2 separate regions of the Homo sapiens genome follow, and region 2 is linked to region 1. Evidence: fine-mapped expression QTL. Tissue or cell type: cerebellum. Region 1 holds a variant in brackets; the other region holds the start of a gene. All regions are shown on one strand. Distances are from middle to middle.

Region 1 (10,122 bases):
AGGATTTTGGAATTCTGGTCTCCAAACCTGTTAGAGAATAAATGTCGGTTGATTTCAGCCATCAAGTTGATGCTCATTTGTTAATGGCAGCCCCCAGAGAGGGAGACAGCCTCCCTTCCCGTCTCTCCAGCCCAGCAGACTGCTGGGTATTGGGGTTGGAAAAGTCTTTCAAGGGCTCAGGGAGTGCTGGGGTGGCCACCACCTTCTGAGCACCATCCTGTGCCTGGGCCTGCCTCCCTTGCAGCCCGAGCCCAGGCATAGGAGCCAGCTCCACTCGCACCTGCCAGCCTCAGCCTCAGCCTCAGAGGTGAGCAATGCCAGGAAGCCGATGCCTCCAGAATCCCTTGACCAACGGGGACGGCAGCGGGGCCCTGGCTTTCAGAACAGCAGGTGCGGGCTGCTGGGTCCATGCCCGGTGGGGGAGGCTGCACGGTTGGGCCCTTGTTCTTGGCTGTGTGGCCGCCGAGGCTCTCCGGAAGGTTCTATGAGCCTCCTAATATCTTGTATTGGGTTCCATTAAGCTGGCCAGAGTGGGTTCTGCCGGTTCCAAGTGGTGTGTGGGATGGGGAAGTGCTCTCAGCTCTGTCCCTGGGACAGGTGGGGGGTGGGCGCGTCACATGCCAGAGATCTGGGGTGAAGGCCTGAAGACCCTTCCCCTCCTGCTGGAGGAGAGCCGACCTCCCCCACAGGGCCTCGTGGGAGTACAGGCGGCCAGCAGGCCCGTGGGAGATCAGGAGGGAGATGTGTTCATAGCCGGCACTCGAGGCACCTGGGTTCGGGACACACCTGGGCTCGGGTCACAGAAGCCCCCCATTCCCCAGGTTGAAGAGGCCTGGGCTTTCCCTGGGCCTGGCTCTCGCTCTCCTCCCCCAACGCTGCTCTGGTCCCCGGCGGCCTCCTCAGGGCCCAAGTCCTCCCTCCCCCTGTCCTCCTTCTCTCCACTACCCCCTTCTTAGAAATGAAGTCATCTAGAAAAATAATCAAAAAATAGAAAGGAAAAAAACACCTTAGAAAATGGGATTTTTTTTCCCCTTCAAACATTTGGTGAGACACCTCCCACACGGATGAGTGGCCACGGGGCCTGTTTTGGTGTGAGAGAGACTTGGGCCTGTACCCTTGGAGTTGTGAGAGGCAGGGGGGCCTCCCAGTCCCACAGTGGGGGTCTACACTAGGCCTCCCCTCTGCAGCCTGGCCAAGGTTGGCCCCAGAAGCCTGAGGTCCCCGCCGATGCCCTGAGCAGGAAGGCCGCTGAGTCCCCGAGGCCAGGGTGCAAGGCAGGGTGGGAGGGCTGGCGGGGGCCAGGCCAGGGGCTGCTTAGCACCTAAGTGAGGCCCTGCCTCCGGTCTCTCCCCTCTTCCCACCCGGCCCACGCCGCTGCAGGGCTCTGGTTTGTTTATTTATAATTCATCCTCTGCCTGCTTCCAAGAAGGCTCCCGGCACTTACTGGAAAGCTGCTTCCTGAAGCTCCGTTGTGCTCCTGGCAGGCTCGGGCTCAAAGCCCGTCAACGCTTCCCCATCACTCGCAAAGGCAGACGACTCAGCCTGGCTTCCAGGGCCCTCCAGATCTGGCCCCCAAATGCAGTCTTTCCGCCACTTCCTGATGTATCTCCTGGCCCCAGAGGGACCCTCCCTTACAATGCAGATTGCTCGAGGGACCCCGGGACCCAGGATACTTCCTCCTACCTTGGGATCAGACCCTCCCTCATCCCATGGCGCCTTCTCTGGTCCCGACAGTGGGGGACGTTGACACCTCTCTTCTGCCCATTGGCTGTCTGCTGTCACAGTTACCTGGTACAGGCTGCTCCTTCTGGCCCCAGCCCGACCTCCCCGGCCCTTGGAGGAGCTTAACCAAGTCAAACTATTGTTAAGGTTGATGGTGACAATGCCAGGGAAGGTGGAGGCTCCCCTCTGCCTCCGGAGTGGCATTGAAGACGGAGGTGCCTGCAGTTGGTCCCCACGCTCGATAGGCAGGAAGCTTTGGTCAGGAGTGGGGCTGAGAGGAGCCACCCTGGTGGCTTAGTCTGGACGCCTGACTGGGGGTTCCATGAGTGTGTCCTCGGGGGCTGGGTGGCGAAGTGTGACTCCACGGGCTGGAAGGGCGGGGACACAGTGTGGTGAGAAACAGCATGCAGGGCTGCAGGCGGCAGCTCTGCAGTCAGGGCTCTGGGCTCAGGGAGCTGTCCCCTGAGCAGGGAAGCTCACACCAGAATTGGTCAGGCAACCCAGGGATCTGTGAGGGATAAGAGATGGTAGTTGTGTGAAGCCTCTAGGCTTTGGGGTGATTTGTTACACAGCCAAAGCTAACTGATACAGCCAGGAACTGCTGATGGCACAGCCGGAAGTCCCACCCACCCTTGAGAGATCAGCCCCTGCCTTGGGCAGGAAGCCCAGGAGGCTGTGGGAAGATCTCTGGCCTGCTGGAGGCCCCGGTTGCTGGTGCTAAGAGGAGGGGCAAGGAGGGACCAGGGAAGGGGACACCCTGACCACTGGAGTGCTGAGGAGCGAGTTGGGGGGTGGCCAGATTGGGGTTAGCAGCTCGAGGGGCACACCTGGGGGGCTGTTTCCAGGTGGATACTGGAGGCCAGCCAGCAGGCTCCCTTGAAGCAAGCCCTCATGCCACCTTCCCAGCCCATCTGGGACCTCACCACATCTTGCTTCTGGGAGGAGGGTCACCCTCGATCCTGGGCCTGCTGCCTCAGGCTGACTCTTCCCTGCTGTGGCTGAGTGAGCAAGCTCGGACCCTGGCCTGAGGGCCTGCTTAGTCCCCCTCTCAGATTTGCACCGGTCAGGGCCAAATAACTGGCTTAGCCAGGGGACCCTGGAAACCTCACTTCATTTCCTTCAAGCCCTAATTCCTCCATTGAAAAACAGGGCCCTGTGCGGAGGAGTAAACGCGAGAAAGCCCACGGGGCATCCATGCATATCCCCCTGGCTCAGGGCCTCAGCTTTCCCTTCTGTAAAATGATGCTATCTCTTCCGCTTCTCCCTCTGCCAGTCTGTACCTCCAACTTCTACAGAGCAGACCGGATGCCTCTGCCCGCCGGCAGGGCACGTCACAGGTAAGGGGTGGGGGCTGTGCCCCATCCTCCACCATCTGTGGGCTCCAGATCCCACTGGCCTGGTACCATCAGTCATGGCCAACTCCCAGCTTCTCCCTCCCTCAGCTTAAGCAGCCACTGCCTGGCAGAAGGGGAGCCCTGGCATGGCAGGACCCTTGGGGACTGCCCTCAGGAAGCCTCAGTGGCAAGGGCAGATGCCAGCTGGGCTGTGTCAGGGATCCTCTGCCACCTGGCAGACACACTACAGAGCGTGGCCTTTCCCTGCTGCCGACTCTCCTTGTCACTGAGTTCCGTGGGGCCACAGATGTCCTGGCCATGGGGGTCAATGCAGAACAGATGTCCATCCCTGGCCACAATGCTCTGTGCCAGAAGGACAGTGCCAGAATGGCCCCTTGCTGACACAGCCCCAGAACCCCTGACTTTGGAACTGGGTGGAAGGGAAGAGAGGAGCCAGGTGACTCCATCTCCTGAAGGAACTACCTTTGGGAGCCCAGGACCGGCCCAGAAGCATCTGGCTGTGGGGTGGCCTACAGCCTCCTCCCCACATGGCTGGCTGGCAGATGGCTGCCCTGGCCTGCCCAAGCCACATGCCCGGCAAAGAGTTCCTCTGCCAGTGCCGGGGCCCACGAGGAAGCCGGCTGTC[C/T]GGACATTTGCATGCAATTCCGGGCAGCCCCGGATGCTTGTCTGGCTTCCAGCCTGGGAAGTGGCATCGAGCCCTGGGAAGAGGACAGGCTTCACGGCCACAAAGAGCTCAACTGAAGATCTGAATCCTGCATTTAGTAGTGGTGTAACCGGGGTCAGGGGCTTTCTGAGCCTGTTTCCTCCTCTGTAAAGGAAGGCTAATGTGTAAATGTGAGCTTGACATCTAGAGCCACATCCAGCACAGAGGAGGCGATCAATGATGGCTGGCTCCTTCCCTTCGTCCATGGCTCACGCCTTACACCTGCTGCTCTAGGCAGAAATGCCCCCCTGAGAACCCCTGAGAGGACTTCCAGAGACCCCACCCTGGAAACTGATCCCACCCTCCTCCTTCTCTGTGACTTCCACACAGCCTCTTCCTCATCATTCCTTCCTACCAGACTAAGGGGCCTTGAGGGTGATACCAGGTGTTCTCCAGACAATTCAACACCTAGCAGAGTGCTGCGCGGGGCTGCCAGCATAAATCAATGACATCTTTCAGCCCAGAGGGTTCTGAGAGTGATTGCATTTGACAGCACTTCCTGAGGCGCCCCTGGCCTCCTGAGGAATGAGCTGTTCAGGGCATCTGGCAAGCAGACACCAGTCCATGCTGGCACCCTTCCTTCTGGAGAGTCACCCAAGGGAGCCACCGATCGCTGCTAGAACTGGAGCAGAGTCCTCAAACAACAGTCTGCACACAGACAAGACCCGGGATATTTCTTTGATCCAGCTCCTGCCTTACAGGACTTCATCTTCACCCATTCCTGAGGAAGGAGAGAGGAAAAAAAGACCTCTCATACACCCCCTCAGTCTAGTGTTTACTGAGCACACACTGTGATCTGGATAAGAGAGAAACTCTGCCGTCTTGGTGCTTTCAGACAATACACATCAAATTACATTATCAACGATGCTGGATGGCGCTAAGAGCCGGGGAGGGAAAGCAAGGGAGTACAGGCCACAGACCGTCCTGGACTTCGAGTTTGACTTACATTTTGGCTTTGCCATGGTACAAACGCCATACACATTCAGTATACTCCTCCGCTTACAGATGGGGTTACATCCGGATAAACCTACCGTAAATTGCCTTACAATGCTTTAACCTATGATGGGTTGATGGGGAATCTAACCCCATATGACAGGAGCATCTGTATAGGAAGGGGGCACGGTTTTCAACAGGTGGTCGCCTCACTAAGTGGGAGTCACAGGGTTTCAGGGGAGGAGCGTTCCAGGCCGCGGTAACAGCAGGTGCAAAGGCCCTGAGGCAGGACGGGGCAGGGAGGTCCAGAGTCCACCGCGCAGAGACCCGGGAGGCCGGCAGGCACGGTGAGGACCTTGACTTAAACCCAGGAAAGGGGAACCACACTGGGGCATGACCTCCTGTACTTTCCGAGATCGCTCTGGCTCCTGTGTTGAGGAGACTCAGGAGGGGAAGGTGGAAGCGGGGAGACCCAGCTGAGACGCTACTACAGTCATCTCGGCGGGAAAAGACGGCTCGGAGCAGGGTGGTGGCAGAGGTGGGAGAAGAGGTCAGGTCTGGGGAAATTTCGAAGGCACAGCCAACAGGATGTACTGCCGGGCTGGATGCGGGGTGTTAGGGGTCAGGGAGGCCGCCAAGGCTCTGCCTGAGAACTGGGGAGGGCCAGGGGCACCATTTACGGAGCTGGGGAACAGCAGGAGCTCGTTTTGTTAGCAGGTGCGAGGCGCCGGGCATTTAAAGGCGGCCTGACGGGACCGGCCGAGGCGGAAGAACGGACAGGGCCCTGCGGGACCGCGCTCGGATCCGCCTCCTCCCTGACCTCGGCGTCCCCGGCTACTGCCTCCAGAGCCGCTTCGGGGCCGACCCCGGGGACTCTTCCCGCCTGCGGCCTCGCGCCAGCCCGGCCGGCTCGCCTAGTGCCCGGCGCCCAGAAACGCGTGGAGCTGGGAGAGGCCACACAACCCACGCCGGAAGCCTAACCCCGTCGGCCCCCGCGGCCGGCACCGGCCGGAAGCCCGCGAAGCCTAACTCTCGCGAGACGCCTCCTGAGTCCCGCCTCTCCGCGGTTCCGCCAGTCGCCGCGCTCCTGTCTGCGTTGCTGTGGCAGCCCCGCCGTGCGTCCGCGTTCCCGGAGCCAGCGCGGCGGCGCGCCTGTGCTCGGGGCTTGGCCGTAGCTTTTCCTCAGGTCCCGCGCGGCGCGCCCCTGTGTCGCAGGCGCCCTGCCGCTGCCCGCAGCTTTTGGGGGGTTCGGGGGCGGGGGAAGCAGGGCCGCAGAAGGCCCAATCGGAGCCTTCTGACACCCGCCCCGGCCCGCCGCCCTCCCGGAGCTTCCGTCCCCGCCGCCTGGCTCCTTACTGACACGCGCGCCGCCCCCGGTCGCCCGTTTTCCCTGGGCTCCGGCCTCCTCTCGCTTCCAGCCCTGGCCTGAGGTCCTGAGGGCTCCCTGGAGGGGGCGGCTTCCCAGCACCCAGCGTTTAACAGGGCCCTTTCGGCCTCCCTGTCCCCCAAGCTCAGAGTTGGGGTCTGCAGCAGGGGAAAGAAGGAGGGAGACTGGGCAGCTCAAGTTCCCCAGACCGCACCTATCAGACGGAGGGCGGCCCGCTCCCGTCAGAGCCCGACCTCGGCGGACAGGGGAGGGGATGGGTTGAGAAGCGGGAGAAGGCCACTAGCTGGAAACTCCCTGACGACAGGGACACCGTTCTCGCCCCAGCCCCAGCGCTCGGCCTCCGCAGAGCCGGCCCAACGAAGGAAGAATGAAAATATGAACGTGACATGATGTGGGCTTGAGAGGCCGCCTTGTTCTTTGGATTCACCCAGAAACCTGACTGAAAGGAAAGTTACTGCAACTGGGGAAAAGCACAGTTGGCTGGAGAATTTGGTTTAAAAATAAATAAGTTTTAAATTACGTAACTAACACGTGCTTGGTGTAGAAAATTTGGAAAACATATGAAAGTACGGTATAAAAATCCTCGATCCCACTGCCACATAGAACCACTATTAACATGTCAGAATCGTTTCTTCGGGTGTTTTTTTTTCTTAATGCATTTATATTGCATATACATTTTTTCTCTAACAATATATTGATGTGCCCCAGTCCCCCACAGACCCTAATGTATGAATGGGAATGGAGGCGTCTGAAATGTGACTCACAAAGAGTTCTCTTTCCTCCCTAACACCCCATCCCTGCCTCACCCCTTCAGCGCATTCACAGCAGCACTGGGACTCCGGACTCAGACAAATGTGCACTGAGCTGGCTGGTGCTCTCATAGCCTCTGGCCCCAGAGCTCCACCTTCCCCTGCAGAGGGGGTCCCGGGAGTGTCCTCAAGTGCTCCATGCCCCATGTTCCTTTCCATGGCACCAAATTCTTCTGACCTCCTTCTAGGTGAGGGGTGAGGGGGTGAGGTAGGGGGTTGGGGAAGAGTGTCCCCATGAGGCCTGAGGGGCCTGCTAGTGCAGGGGAGGAAGGGAAGTTCAAGCAAGCAGGCTCAACGGAGGGCTCCACCCTCCAGGTACGGCCAGGTCCTGGGAGAAGGAGGGGAAGCAGTCTGGTCCAGGAGAGAGGCAGCAAGGGCAGATGCTAAGCCTTTGCCTCTGCACTCCCTGGGGACCTCTGGGGACCCCCCCCCCCACCCAGCACTAGTAATCAAAGGAGGACAGACACCTACACACGTGTCCCATATGTCTCACCCTAGCAGGCAGCGAGAGGATGCCCAGTGTTACTCTGGCCCCCTGGAAGGCTAGCTTGCTCTCCTGGGCACAAGTCAGAAGCAGTGTGAACTGGAGTGGGTGGTGGGGGACACCCCTCCCGGTGAGCCCCCCCTCCGACCCGGCTGTCAGTGATCCACAAGTCTGGCCCATCAGCCCTCCCTGCTGAGCACACAGTCCACTGACCCTTCTTCAGAATTGTGGGAATGACCTCACTGCCCCTCCAAGCAACGTGTTGTGCTGCCGCCCACATCAGACATCCGGGGAATGGACTGCACAGCCTCCATGTGTGCTGGCTCCTTGGCGCCTGCAGAGCCGGGTTGATTCTGTCTTTCCCTTCAACTCTTGTCTTAAAGGATATCCTGAGCGTGCCGGCTCCTCTGCTCAGAGGGTGTTAGGGTGGCGGTGGCAGTGGGCACCTCTCTGCTCCTCGGCTGGGTGCTCAGCCTCGCCAGGCTGCCTGGAGCTGGTGGAGCAACAGCCTTGTCCCCCGTCCAGCTCTCTGCAGCTGCCCTCTCCTGTCAGAAGCTCCTGGAAAGCATTTCTGGCACATAGAGGCCATCTGCATGTTCTCCTCCTGCCCGCCCCACCCCGAGTAGCCACAGAGGATCTTCCCCAGCTGCCTTCACCTCCGCCCCCAGACAGAGCCTCCTGGCTACTCCCCCAGATAGTGTCTCCAAAATCACTTCCATTTCTCCTCTGCTCGCAGCCACTCAGTGGCTTTCGTTATCATTCAGAATAAAACCAAAGCGTCCATTACCATCCAACCAAAGACCCCAGGAACGCGCTGCAGTGGAATCAAGCCACGTCTGTTGACTGGTTGCTGTGAGAGGATGTTAGGAAGGACCCGCAAGTCTCCTCGTGTTGGGAGAGCATGGTGGGAGGAGGAGTTGGGAGAGGCTCAAGGCAGCAGGGCTGACTCCACAGCTGGGTATCTTGATAACTTTTATCTAGAAGGCAGGAAGAACAAAATGCAGCTGAAGCTGAAATTGATCAAGCAGCAGCGGTCATTCAAATTAGCCAGGACGGGGTGGTTTGGTGACCCTTGAGGTCTGGCCGATGCTCATGTTCTGCCTATGCTCTGACACGATCCTGTGTATCTTGCCCCATCTCGGGCACACAGTGGTCTTGTCTGGTGTTGGTGTTCAGTGACATTGCTTAGCCATGAAATTGTCTCCAGGTTAGTGACTAGTGACGCCAGGGTGGGTGGCTCTTCTCTTTTTCAAGACCTGGGTGTCACCTGACCCCCAGCTGCCTCTGACTCACCTGCCACTGCCCTTCTTATCCACACTCTTCCTGACAAGCTGGTTTCCTGTGTGGCCGAACAGTTTCCTCCTTCGGGCCCTTCGTGGTCACCGGGCCCCTGCCTGGAGCCTCCGCCTCAGGAACCCATGTGGCTGACTCCGGCCCTGTGGCCTTGCCACTCTCTCTCCATCCCCACGCTGTCCCCTTGGTGGTTCTTACTGCCACCTTCCTTTCCACCTGCTGAAACCCTAGGGTCTTCTGGTCCCTCTGCCCATCTAAGACCGAATTCCCACAACAGGGAGAGTCTGGGTGACACGCTGGTGCGTTTATTCCTGGGGCAGTGTGGTTCCCACATGGATCCTCAGATGTTCTTTGGTGTTGGTGACCCCACTGTGGACCGTTGGTTCTGCTCCAAGACCAAAGCTGGCTGCTGGTGGGTGCAGAATGCGCATGTGGCTTGGACCAGACAGCCTCTAGGCCTCCCCTTTCTACCGCCAGGTGCCGAAGGGCCAGCAGCCTGGACACCCCGGAGCCCTGGAGAGCTCTGACCCCAGCCTCTGCCCCACCTGAAGTGGGTCTGGCCCCTTCTTGCAACAGGATCAGCCCCCAGCTGGAGACAGAGACCCCACAGCCAGCCCAGACAGCCGCCTAGTACTCCCCAGTCCCCCAGCCTAAGGACGCTCCACTGTCCTGGGCTGCCAAAACAAATATCACCAACTAGGCACCTCAAAACTCATCCTCTGGCAGTTCTAGAAGGCAGAAGTCCACAGTCAAGCGGTCAGCAGAGCTGGTTCCCTCTGGAGGCTTGGAGGGAGAGTCCGTTTCACGCACCCCATTTTGCTTCTGGTGGCTGCTGGCAATCCTTGGTGTCCCTTGGTTCAGAGACATCGCTGCAACTTCTGCCTCTGTCGTCCCGCGGCCTCCTTCCCAAGTGTGCAGCTGTGTCCTCTCCTCTTCTTACCAGGGCCCCAGTCACTGGACTTAGGGCCCAACCCAATCCAGCCTGACCTCATCTTAACTTGATTACAGTTGCAAAGACCCTATTTCCAAATAAAGCCCTAGTCACAGGTTCTGGGTGGGCATGGATTTGGGGTGACATATTCCACCCAACGCAGCTCCCACCCCCATGTGGTGGAAGCCCAGGGTCAGGGAGGATCCCCGTTCCCCTGCTGGCTCCCAGTGCGCTTCCAACTTCCAAGGGGGGCTCAGTGGGTGGTCTGAGCTGGACACAACCTAGCTCCTTCATTCCTGTGAAGCATCGTTCTCACGGGCCGTCTGGGCAGCAGGCATTTACTGATGTTTGGAGTAATGGGGACAGCACTTTACAGGTGACAACCTGGGGCACCTCTTGGCAGCTGGGTGCCTCCCTGTGACCTCAGCTGTGACCTCAGCAGTGACCTCAGCTGTGTCTCTCTGCCCTTCTTGACCCCATCACCTCTTTTCTTCCCCTAACTCCT
Region 2 (10,122 bases), 23 kb after region 1:
CTTCTCAGGGGAACCACTTCTCCGGCTACCTCCCTCCCTCCTTGCTCCTCTTCCCCTTCCCAGCCTCTGGTTCTGAAGCTCTCTCCCCTTCCCCACCACATCCAGCACAGTACCTGCTCCTGGCCCAGCACCAGCACGCCCTGGGGCTTGATGGGGTGATAGGGCGCCAAGTTCTCGCCACTGCCACCCTGCGTGCCATCCTGGTAGGCCTCCCAGACCCCGTCCCGGGTGGTCCAGGTGACACAGATGTGGTGCCACTTGCCATCATTGATGACAAAAGGCAACTTGGCCACCTGGGAAGGAGAATGACAGACGCCAGCTGGTGAGTACAGGGGTACAGCCCAGAAGCCATAATCTTCACTGCCTCAGTTGTTCCTATCTCTACTTGCAAAGTAAATGTCAATAACTATTACTGAATTCTCACAGCACCTACTGCCCCAGACTTCAGCGTCTGTCAGCCCCGCCTGGGCGTGGGGCACAGAATCACACAGGAAATGTAAGGCTCTACCGAGGGAACCCCCAAGGGCCATGTGGGTGTGCAGTCTCTTCACTCCTACTCACCCTCCTCCCTCTTTGCTAGTCTACACAACAAGCCCTAGTCTACACCAGGGAGAGCCGTCCCTGGTGTCTGAGTTCACTGCTGCCTCTCAAGGCTCCGTGCGACATCTGTGCAGCCTCCTTGCTGGCCTCTCCTCTCTCTTCCGATGTCCCATCTCTAGCTGTTACACCCTCTCACTCTACAACACGGCAAGCTTTTGCCGAGGATCTGAGAGATGTCATGGAGCACGATGCCTTTTAAAGCTCAGACCAGCCTCCAACCTGGAATTTCACTCTCCCACTGCCATTCCAGGTCGGGAGGATGACGGTCCAGCAGACAGTGAGGAAAGAAACTTCACACCCTTTCCGCTTGGGGAAAGGGGGCCCAGAATGGCACAGCCCTTTGTGGGGAAGAGCAACAGGAACAAGGGCGTGGAATCCACTTCCCAGCCCAGGTTTTAGCCATTGACTACCACTGCTGGCCTGGACTTGAGACAGTTTGAAAGCTGGCAGCTAGTTCCATAGCTAACAGGGGAGGATGGAGAATGTTCACTAGAGGGAAAGGCTGCCTGTGCTGTCCTGTTCCAAGGGATCACACAGACCTGTCCTCCTCCCGAGAGTTAGGGGGCTGAGTGGGATAGACTTGGACTCAGGAAAAATCTCTAAGGACCCCTCACCCCGCTAGAGCATCTCTGGGTCCCTGCTATGGAGGGGCAAAGCCAGTTCCAAGGCCAGCTGGTGGAGGAGTCCAGATCACATCATCGGGCAGGGCCAGGCCCCATGGCTCGTTCTCCGCCATCTCCCGTACCCACCCCAGGAGGCATCCGGGAAGGTCCAGCTCTCCCTGCTCTCCCAGTACAGGTGAGGGGGCTCCTACCACTTCTCCTGGTCTTCACCCTCCCCCTCCCTCAGTCCCACCTGGCAAACACTTTCCTTGGGGCCCCATCAACATCTGAGGCCACCATAGCCCTGTCTCCGCATGCAACATGAGCTGGGGCCCTGGGGCCTCGCCCTGCCGCCCTGTGAGCCCGGGGGCTGCTCTACCTTGTCATTGATGAGGATCTCCATGGGGTTGTTGCCCCACTCAATGAGGACCAGCTCGTTGGCCTGGCCGGGCACAGCGTAGGAGAAGGGCGTGCCCACACCTGGCGTGGCGCTGGACTTGAGCCACATGCAGACAGTGAAGGCGTACATCTCTGGCAGGCTCTTCTTCACCTTGGCATACATATAGTTGGTCCGCAGTGGGAATGTGAGCTGGAACTTGTCTCCAGGGCGGTTGTCTTTCTGACCTGCGGAAGACACAGTCCTGACATCTGCACCTGCGTGAAGTGCTTATCGGTGTCTGAGTTGAGTTCGGTCCCCACCAAGCTCTGTGATGCGTGGCCAGGGCAGGCTCCGGTCTCCATTCTGGAGACGCAGAGCGGGTAGCTTCCCAGGTCAAGTACTTTGCCCCAAGGCACAGGGCCAGTCTGTAAAGAGCTGACCCAAGCTCTTCATGCTCCAGGTCTGGCCTGCTGTCACGCCCATGTGCTGGCATCCTTGGGGAGATGGGGGTGGGGGGCAGTGCCTGGTGGGCTGCTGCATCAACACTGGGCTGCGTGGTGGGCATGAGAAGGGAATGGGGACAGCCGCCAAGCCAAGTCAACCCAAGGAGCAGGGGTGGCTGCAGAGGAGGAACGAGGCTAGCTACCCTGAGAGTAACCGACCTGATTCCAGGATGGGGCGGGGCTCAGAGCCTCTCCTCGCTCAATCCCAGGCTCTGCTCCTGCCTCTCCCCACCCGACAGCCAGGCCCTGGTGCCCACACACTTCCCTCCAGGCCAGATGTGCCTCTGACCCACCAATGCCTCTTGGGTGTGAGGCTGGGCAGCTCCCCACCTCCAAGGCCCTTCCTTGGAGCAGGGACTCTGCCTGGAGCTCTGCTGAGAGGGCAGGGCAGCAAGGAGCTGGGAGTACTCTGGGCGCCAGGGCTCCCCAAGGTGACTGCTCTAGGATGCCGCCACACTCTCAGGTGAGTAAGTGTCCTCACAGCTCAGGTTCCAGGCCTGGTGGCCTCCCTTTCCACAAGGCCCACCTTCTCCCTCCCCACCGGCCACTTCTCCCGTAAGCGCCAACCCCCATAGCCCATCTATATACTGTGGCACCCTGGGTATGGTGTGACTGACTCCAGGCAAAACATTCCTGGCCAGCAATGGGCACAGTAGCAGGCCCAGAGCCCAGGAACACACACCCCTTGGTCAATCCCTGGGTGAGCAGCCGTGGTCCTGCCAGGAAGCCCAGAAAGAAACCAGTTCCCCAGGCCAAAAATTATTTCTAGAAGACATCCTGCCCGGTCAGCAACCACCCCCTCCTCTAAACCAACTGGCAGGGAGCAGAGCAGGGCAGGCCCCCTCAGTGCAGCACCCCAGCGGCTACCCCAACCCATTGAGGCCTGCAGTGGGGGATAGGGAGGGGCCCAGCCCCTGGCCTTTCTCCGGGTGTTTTTCATTCCCCAATCTCCGCTCCTTCCCTCTCCCTCCCTCCTGAGGTCCTTCCTTCTGATCTGTTTTTCAGTTACATAACAAGCCTTAAGATGGCACTGTTTAAATCTGTCCGGCACATTTTGCGGTCTGAGCAGGGTCACGTGGCCTTGCTCCGCACCGGGCACCCCCCCCCCTCCCCTTTTACAACCTTGTTTGATTTCTGCGACTTCAAGACAGAGCCTCCAGCGCTCATCCAGGCGCCCTGGGTGATAGACTGGCTGGCCTGAGTTGGTGACTGAGAAACCTCAGGGATTTGAAAGATGCCAGGACTTGGGTCACTCAGAAAAGAAAACCTCAGGGTAGGGGTTCAGGACAGAAGTGGGGAGGAGCTGGAGATCCTGAGAGGACACCGGGGGCATGGCAGCCGGGAAGAAACCTGCTTAACAGCCTCAGCGGCCCGGGGAACGAGAGCGCCCAGCCCCAGCCTGCACCCAGCTGTACGCTGAGGCTGGGGACCAGGGAGAGACAGGCTTTCTTAAGCAGGGAGGGTTTGAGCCAGCGACAGCCACTGTGCAAAGTTACTGAGGATTAAACAAATCAGACTTGAAAAATCCAGCGAGTGTGTGAGTGTGTCTGGATGGGGGAGGGGGCACTATGCAATCCCCTTTCCCAGAGACAGCCCCAGCCCAAGGCACCCAGCCCTGATAGAAACACCGACTAGAAGCCCAGAACCTGGGAAGGGGTGCGGGGAATGAGAAAGCGGTGCAGGGGTTGGGGGTAGCGGAGCGGCTTGAGGCTTGCACAGTGCAGAGCTGGGCTGTTAGGGATCGGGACCGAGGCAGGGTCGGGCAAGCAGGTGCAGGCAGGCAGCACGGCTCCCCCTGGCCCCAGTACCTTTCTCGAGCTCGCTGATCCGCTGGTGCAGGGAGGTCAGGGCGGTCTCGATCTTGACCCTCTCCTCGGTGTCGTTCCTGGGGCCCCCCTTGCCCTCCTCCAGGGTGTTCACCCGGGACAGCACCTGCCTCTCCAGCTCATCGATCTTGCTCTGCAGCAGATCCTTGAGGCTGTTGGTCTGGCTGGAGGAATTGAGGCGGCTGTACTGCTGCGGGGTGCAAGGGCGGGGGAAACCACACCGTTAGGCGAGGCGCGGGGACCGTGCTGGAAGGCCCGCGGCGCGGTCCCCTCTGGGCGACTGCGGGGGCGGCCTGGCAGGGAGCTGGGGCGAGTGGCCGCCGCGGGGCCTCGCAGGCGCGGGGAGGCACCGGCCGGGCACCCGCGCGGCTGAGGCGAGGGCGGGGGATGCCTGGCCGGGTAGGGAACGGGGTGGGGGAGGGCAGAGGGGCGAGCGAGCCGGAGGGGGAACCGGAGCCGAGGGCGCGCGCGGACCTCGAGGTTCTCCAGGCGGGTTTTGAGCGATTGCAAAGTTTGCCCGAGTTGGCTGAGCGTCTCGGCGGCCGGTGTCCGGGACAGGTCGCCCATGGTGTTCTTGCCCGAGCCGGGCTGCTTGCGGCCGCCGCCCGCCCGGGCCTCGCCGGCTCCGGGGTCCAGCGTGCTCTGGCTCTCGCAGCGGCCCAGCTTGGCGGTCAGCTCGCGGATGGTCTCCTTCTGGCTCAGGATGGTCTCCTTCTGCTGCAGCACCGTCTCGCGGAGCTGCAGCACGCTGCTCCGGAGCTCCTCGGCGCCGCCGGCGGCCACGGACGCGGCGCACATGTCGGCGTCCACGGGCACCGAGGTGCAGATGAAGCGCGTCGGCCCGAAATCCTGGGCCCCGGCGCCCAGGAGGCAGAGGGCGAGCAGCGCACAGGTGCGCGCGGCGCGGCCGGCCGGCATGGCTGCGGGCACCGGGCGCTCCGGGCCCGGCTCGGCTCGGCTGGGGCTCGGCTCCGGCTGGGACCCGGCTCGGGCTGTGGCTCCGCGAGCGGCCCGCGCTCTGGGCGCCGCGCTCTTCGGCCGCGCGGTCCACACCGCCGCGCTATCAGGCCCCCACTGCCGCCTGCGCTGCGGAGCCCGCGCCTTTTATGCCGCCGCGGGAGGGGCCTCGAGCCGCCGACGTCAGCGGGGGAGGAATCCCGCTTTAATTGTCCGCGGCCCGGGCCCGCGGCGCGGCGGGGGTCTCACGAGCGCGCCACCGGGGCTGCCTCCGCTCGCGTCCCCCCCGCCCTTCTGGGAGCTGCCGCGGCCCCCTCCTCCCCCGCCCCCGCCTGGGCCGGCGCTGCTGCCCCGAAGGCTCCGAGAGCTCAGGGGGAAGGAAGTCGGGCTCCGGCCCCGGACTCGAGGATGGACCACCTGCGTGGTGTCCCCGAACCTCCGACGGGGCTCCAGGCGGGCGGGAAACCACCGCGTCCGGGAGATAGAATTCGGTTCGGCCCTCCTGGCTGCACTGAACACCCTTGGGCCGGGGTCGTTTGGAGCCGGGCTGGGTGCCCAAGGACCCAGGTCGTCAACACCCGAGTGCCCGGTGGTCAACGGCTCGGAGTGGGGCCTCGCGGCGCCACTAAGTCCAGAGCGGGGGTCACCGGGCCGCCCCGCGTTTCTTAGATGTCCGTGTGCTATTGAGAAGCCGCCGGGCAGCCTGGGTACAGGGACTTCCCACGGGTCGGGGCCCCCGGCGCCTCCCCTCCCCCAGCTCCCGGGCTCTGTGGACCCGGCCCCGTCCCCGGGGGACTGTCAGTCCCCACCCCGTGCGGGCGGGGCGCTGGGGACTTCTCGGAGGCAGACCTAGCTGATCGAGCCTTTCCTGTCCGCGGCGCCGGCCCGATCGCGGGCAGGCGGCGTCGCCGGGGCTGGACGTTCGCAGCGGCGCTTCGGAAGGGGGCCCCGCGGGAGCAGCCGCCCGCGTCTCCAGCAGCTTCCCCTTGCCAGGCGCCGCGCGCGCCCGGTATCCCCGGGTGTCCACCTGTGCGTGGGGGGCTGTTTCCCGTCTGTCCAGCCGCGCCCACTTCTCAGGCCCAAAGGCCAGCAGGAAGGGTCCCGGAGGTGGCTGGGGGCGTCCACCTGAGAAGCTCCGCTCTCGCTCAGACACCCCACCCGGCACCCGCGCACTCGCGCCTTCATCTGGACCGCGGGGCTCGGCTCCCGAGATCGCGGTCCGGGTTCCGGCGCCGGGCTGGGGGCTCAGGACCAGGGCTGGCGCAGCCGCCCCGCCCCGCCCCGCCCCGGGGCTATCAGAGCGGTCAAAGCCTCGGAAATCCCTCCGTCCACGCTCCCGTGGTACAGAGAAGGAAACTGAGGCTCCGAGACTGCGGGGCCGGGCTACAGCCGTGGCCCCCCGACCCCTCCCCGCCGCCCCCGGCTTCTCTGGTCTCTGCGTTCTGCAGCCTTTCCCTGCGCGCAGCCGGGGGCTGGGGGTCCCCAGCCAGCAGGGACCCACGGGCAGTCCCGGGTGCCGGGATCGGGCGTCCGCCCCTCGGGCGGGAGCAGAGGCCGGCTCGATGGAGACCTTTTTGAGAAATGGCGGCCTCTACCCGCCCCCCAGCCCCCGAGCGCCCGCCGTCTGCGTTCAGCATCTCAGCTTTTAAGCCTCCCTGAGCCGGGGCTGCGTTCTCGTTGTCTCCTTCGGCCGCCGCTTCCTGGCGCCAGAGGGACCCCGCGGCCCGCACGGGCCTGTCCTCGGCTCCGCTCGGAGGGTGTGCGGGTTCCCGCTCCGCTGGCCCCGCTTGCCCACCACGGCGCGCCCAAACCCACGCGGCCCGCGGCCCCTTGCGTGCTCTGCCGACCCCGGGCCGCAGGAGGGGTTAGCCTCGCCGGTCCCCACGCGGGGTCTGCGCCGGCAGCGCCACGGGCTGGAACGCGCCTCGGGAGAAATTACCCGCGCGGGGTCGCGGCGTCTTCTGCCCCAACTCCCGTAGGGAGCCGCTAGGCGGGTGCCCTCCTGGCCCCAGCGCTTTGGCCTCGCCGCCCTCCCGCACGCGTCCAGTGGGGAGGCCGCGCCCGTCAGGCCTGGAGCCGGACCGTGCCCAGCCGAGAGCGCGCGGGCGCGGGAGAGGAGCCCTGCCCTGCCCAGGGCAGGCTGTTTAGACGGGGCGGGAACCCTTAGCCTGGCCCCGCGTCTCTATCCCCAGCAGCCGTGGAGCCTTCCTAGCCGCCCAAGGCCAGGGACCCTGCCTGGCTTTTCCTCCAGGGCAGCAGATCTCAGCGGCCTGGCACCTCGGCACAGAGGAGCGTGTCCCCCTTCCGCAGAGGAAGGGAGTGGACGGCGTCAGAAAGGGAGGGGAGCCTGGGGCGGTGTCTGGGGCTAGCGGGACCTCTGGGCACTGTGGGGCCCCAGGAGAGGAGACCCTCGGGTCCAGCCTGCAACTGTTGTGCAGGAGGCGCTGGGCGGGACACCTGCAGGCGCTGCACACACACGCGAGGGCCACCATGCCGCGTTTCTCCTTCACAAGACCCTGGGCAAGCGGAGGGTCGTATTTAGGATTCCCTCGGCCTCCCCAGTGTTCTGAAAGTATCTGAGAGGGAGGGAGCAGGAAAACGAAGGGCCGCCCTGCCCAAACTCATCGGGGTGTCTGGTTACTAGGTCGGAAGAGGGGGGATGGTGTTGTGAACAGCCAGTGATCCCGGCCCTGCCTGAGTCCCACACCCCAGATGCAGCTGGGGTGAGGGAGGCGATCCCGTAATATTCCCAGCCGCGTACATTTGTGGCTGCCTGTGACACGACCTCACTCATTGGGAAACCATGCACACTAGCACACTGTTATTTTATTTTTGAGACAGGGTCTTGCTCTGTTGCCTAGGCTGGAGTGCGGTGGCGCAATCACAGCTAACTGCAGCCTCGACCTCTTGGGCTCAAGCGATGCTTCCTGCACCACCACACTTCAGCTAATTTTTTTTGTTTTTTTCGTAGAGATGGTTGAACTCCTCTTGCCTTGGTCTTGGGACTACAGGTGCAAGCCACAGCGCCCGGCCTAGCACAATAGTACTTATTATACTACTCCCACCATAACGGTGCAATAGATGTGAATAAAACTCAAAAGCATAGACAAGGCTGGGCGCAGTGGCTCACGCCTGTAATCCCAGCACTTTGGAAGGCCAAGCTGGATCACATGAGGTCAGGAGTTTGAGACCAGCCTGGCCAACATGGTGAAACCCCGTCTCTACCAAAAATACAAAAATTAACCAGGTGTGGTGGCACACATCTGTAATCCCAGCTACTTGAGAGGCTGAGGCAGGAGAATCACCTGAACCTGGGAGGCAGAGGTTGCAGTGAGCCGAGATCGAACCACTGCACTCCAGCCTGGATGACAGAGCAATACTGTGTCTCAAAAAAAAAAAAGATAGACAATAGTTCAATGTAAGAAAATAATTAGAAAGTGATGAGTTTGTAGTATTTATTGCCCATTTAAAATATAATTTATTTAATTATAAGTTTACTTAGTTTAAAATGTAATAGTGGCTGTGTTTAACCATCGACCTGTGAAATTCCTGCAAATGCCACCATCAGTGGGTACTGGCCGGCTCAGCTCACTCCTGGTGGAAGGGCACGGAGAGGCCTGCAGAGGTTAGTTGGTAGTGGGAGGGGGAGTGTAGAGAAGGCAAAGGGGGCAGGTGTCCAGGAGAGGCCCTGGTTAGTGGCCAGTATGGAGAGGGTGGCCAGGCATAAGAAGACTAGACAGACCGGGTGCAGGGGCTCACGCCTTGAATCCCAGCACTTTGGGAGGCCGAGGTGGGTGGATCTCTTGAGCCCAGGAGTTTGACACCAGCCTGGACAACATGGCAAAATCTCATCTCTACAAAAATACAAAAATTAGCCAGGCATGGTGGGGTGCACCTGCAGTCCCAACTACTCTGGGGACTGAAGTGGGAGGATTGTTTGAGCTCGAGAGGTTGACGCTGCAGTGAGCCGAGACCACGTCACTGCACTCCAGCCTGGGCAACACAGCAAGATCCTGTCTCAAAAAAAAAAATTTTAAAAAAAGAAGGCTAGCCGGGTAGGTTGGGAGGTATTAAGAGGACCTCAGTGCCCATCAAGAGTCTTTACTCAGTGGACGGTGGGAGCTCATGCAGGGGTGTGCCTAAGCCTGGTGGGTGCCTGTGCCCCTTGCTCATCCTGCCGTATCTCCCCGGCCTCTCATCTTCCAGGCCATGCCTTGAGCTTATCTGGAACCTCCACCCTTAGCAGGAAGAAGGGTGAGCAATGGGTGGGTGCTGGGAGAATGCTGGGAGGGCCTGAGAGCACTGCGGGGTGCTAGGCAGAGGCACCCTTCTCTGCCCCACTTGCCTCAGCCCTTCCCGCATGATGTTCCATGCTGCCTCTGGAGGGGTGAGGCTGGGAGGGGAGGGTATGGTGGGGTGGGAGAGGCCCTGGTCCCCCACCCGCAGAAGAGAAGCAGGAGCCCTCGATGATCACAGCCCTGGGATAGACACAGTGCCTCAGCCAAGGGTCAGGTACATGCCCCTCTGGAGGACAGGCTGTACCCCTCGGAGACTCATTGCATTGGCAGCTGGTCTAGGATGTGGGACAGTCTGCGGTAAGGTGAGTGGCCGGGGTTTTAGTGTGTGAGATGTGCAACGCCATTTTCACCTGCATCTGAGTTTCCAGCAGCTCGCAGGGTACCGGCCATATTGTTTCTCTATCTGGGTGCTGATCTCATGGGGTGTTTGTCTTGTGACCATTCACTGGGCTGTCCAGGTGCAATCTGTGCACCTTTCTCTGTGGTTCTATGCCTCACACAGGGTGTGCAGGGCACAGCATCCGCAGGGTGTCCTGGGCAGAGGAGAGGGGCTTCTGGCCGCACCAGGGGAGAAGGCACAGGGACCTCTGGCAGCCCAGCCCTCAGGACACAGTCAGGCCACGTGACCTTCCCCCCAAGTGAGGCGCCCCTGGACCCACAGGGTTGGGTGTGGGGCTGCTCTGACGGCAGCCAGTCCCACGGGGCCTCTGAGTCACAGCCTCAGCCCACCTGTGCCTTGGAGTCACTCCTGACAGCCCCACCCACCAGCTCTGTGTGATAAGGGACAGGTCCCTGCTCCCCGGCTCTGCTGAGGGAGGCGCCCCACCCGAGCCTTCCCCTCTGTCCTCTACATGACACCCCTGCGGTGGTAACCTAACTGTGTCTTAAAAACAAGCACTTGTCCCCTTTCCAAGTCCTGGGTCCACATTCACGCATTTGCCTTTCAAAGGCACAGCT

Which allele goes with the higher level. Positions count from the first base shown, and alleles are read on the strand shown. Sizes are in standard deviations (SD) of each study's normalised expression.
In carriers of allele C in region 1, the expression in cerebellum of the gene that starts at base 4,989 in region 2 tends to be higher than with T alone (moderate effect, 0.61 SD a copy in GTEx).

What was found. PIP is the estimated chance that this variant, and not a neighbour inherited with it, causes the effect.
Region 2: NPTX1 starts here. The variant in region 1 is fine-mapped to the expression of NPTX1 in cerebellum (GTEx, PIP above 0.99). The same link has a PIP of 0.9 or more in cerebellar hemisphere.

The regions. Positions count from the first base shown.
Region 1 is chr17:80,449,030-80,459,151 of GRCh38, forward strand. No RefSeq gene overlaps it. Among named protein-coding and RNA genes, the nearest start is that of NPTX1, 23 kb to the right of the region's middle. RefSeq lists enhancers at 5,388-6,217, 8,700-8,789 and silencers at 5,425-5,634, 5,895-6,154, 7,920-8,214. The variant C/T (reference allele first, on the strand shown) is at 3,703.
Region 2 is chr17:80,471,619-80,481,740 of GRCh38, forward strand. NPTX1 (neuronal pentraxin 1) reads right to left here and starts at 4,989. Exons shown (of 5, transcript NM_002522.4): 1 at 4,385-4,989; 2 at 3,893-4,100; 3 at 1,582-1,826; 4 at 114-293. The coding sequence starts at 4,828. RefSeq lists an enhancer at 3,443-3,976.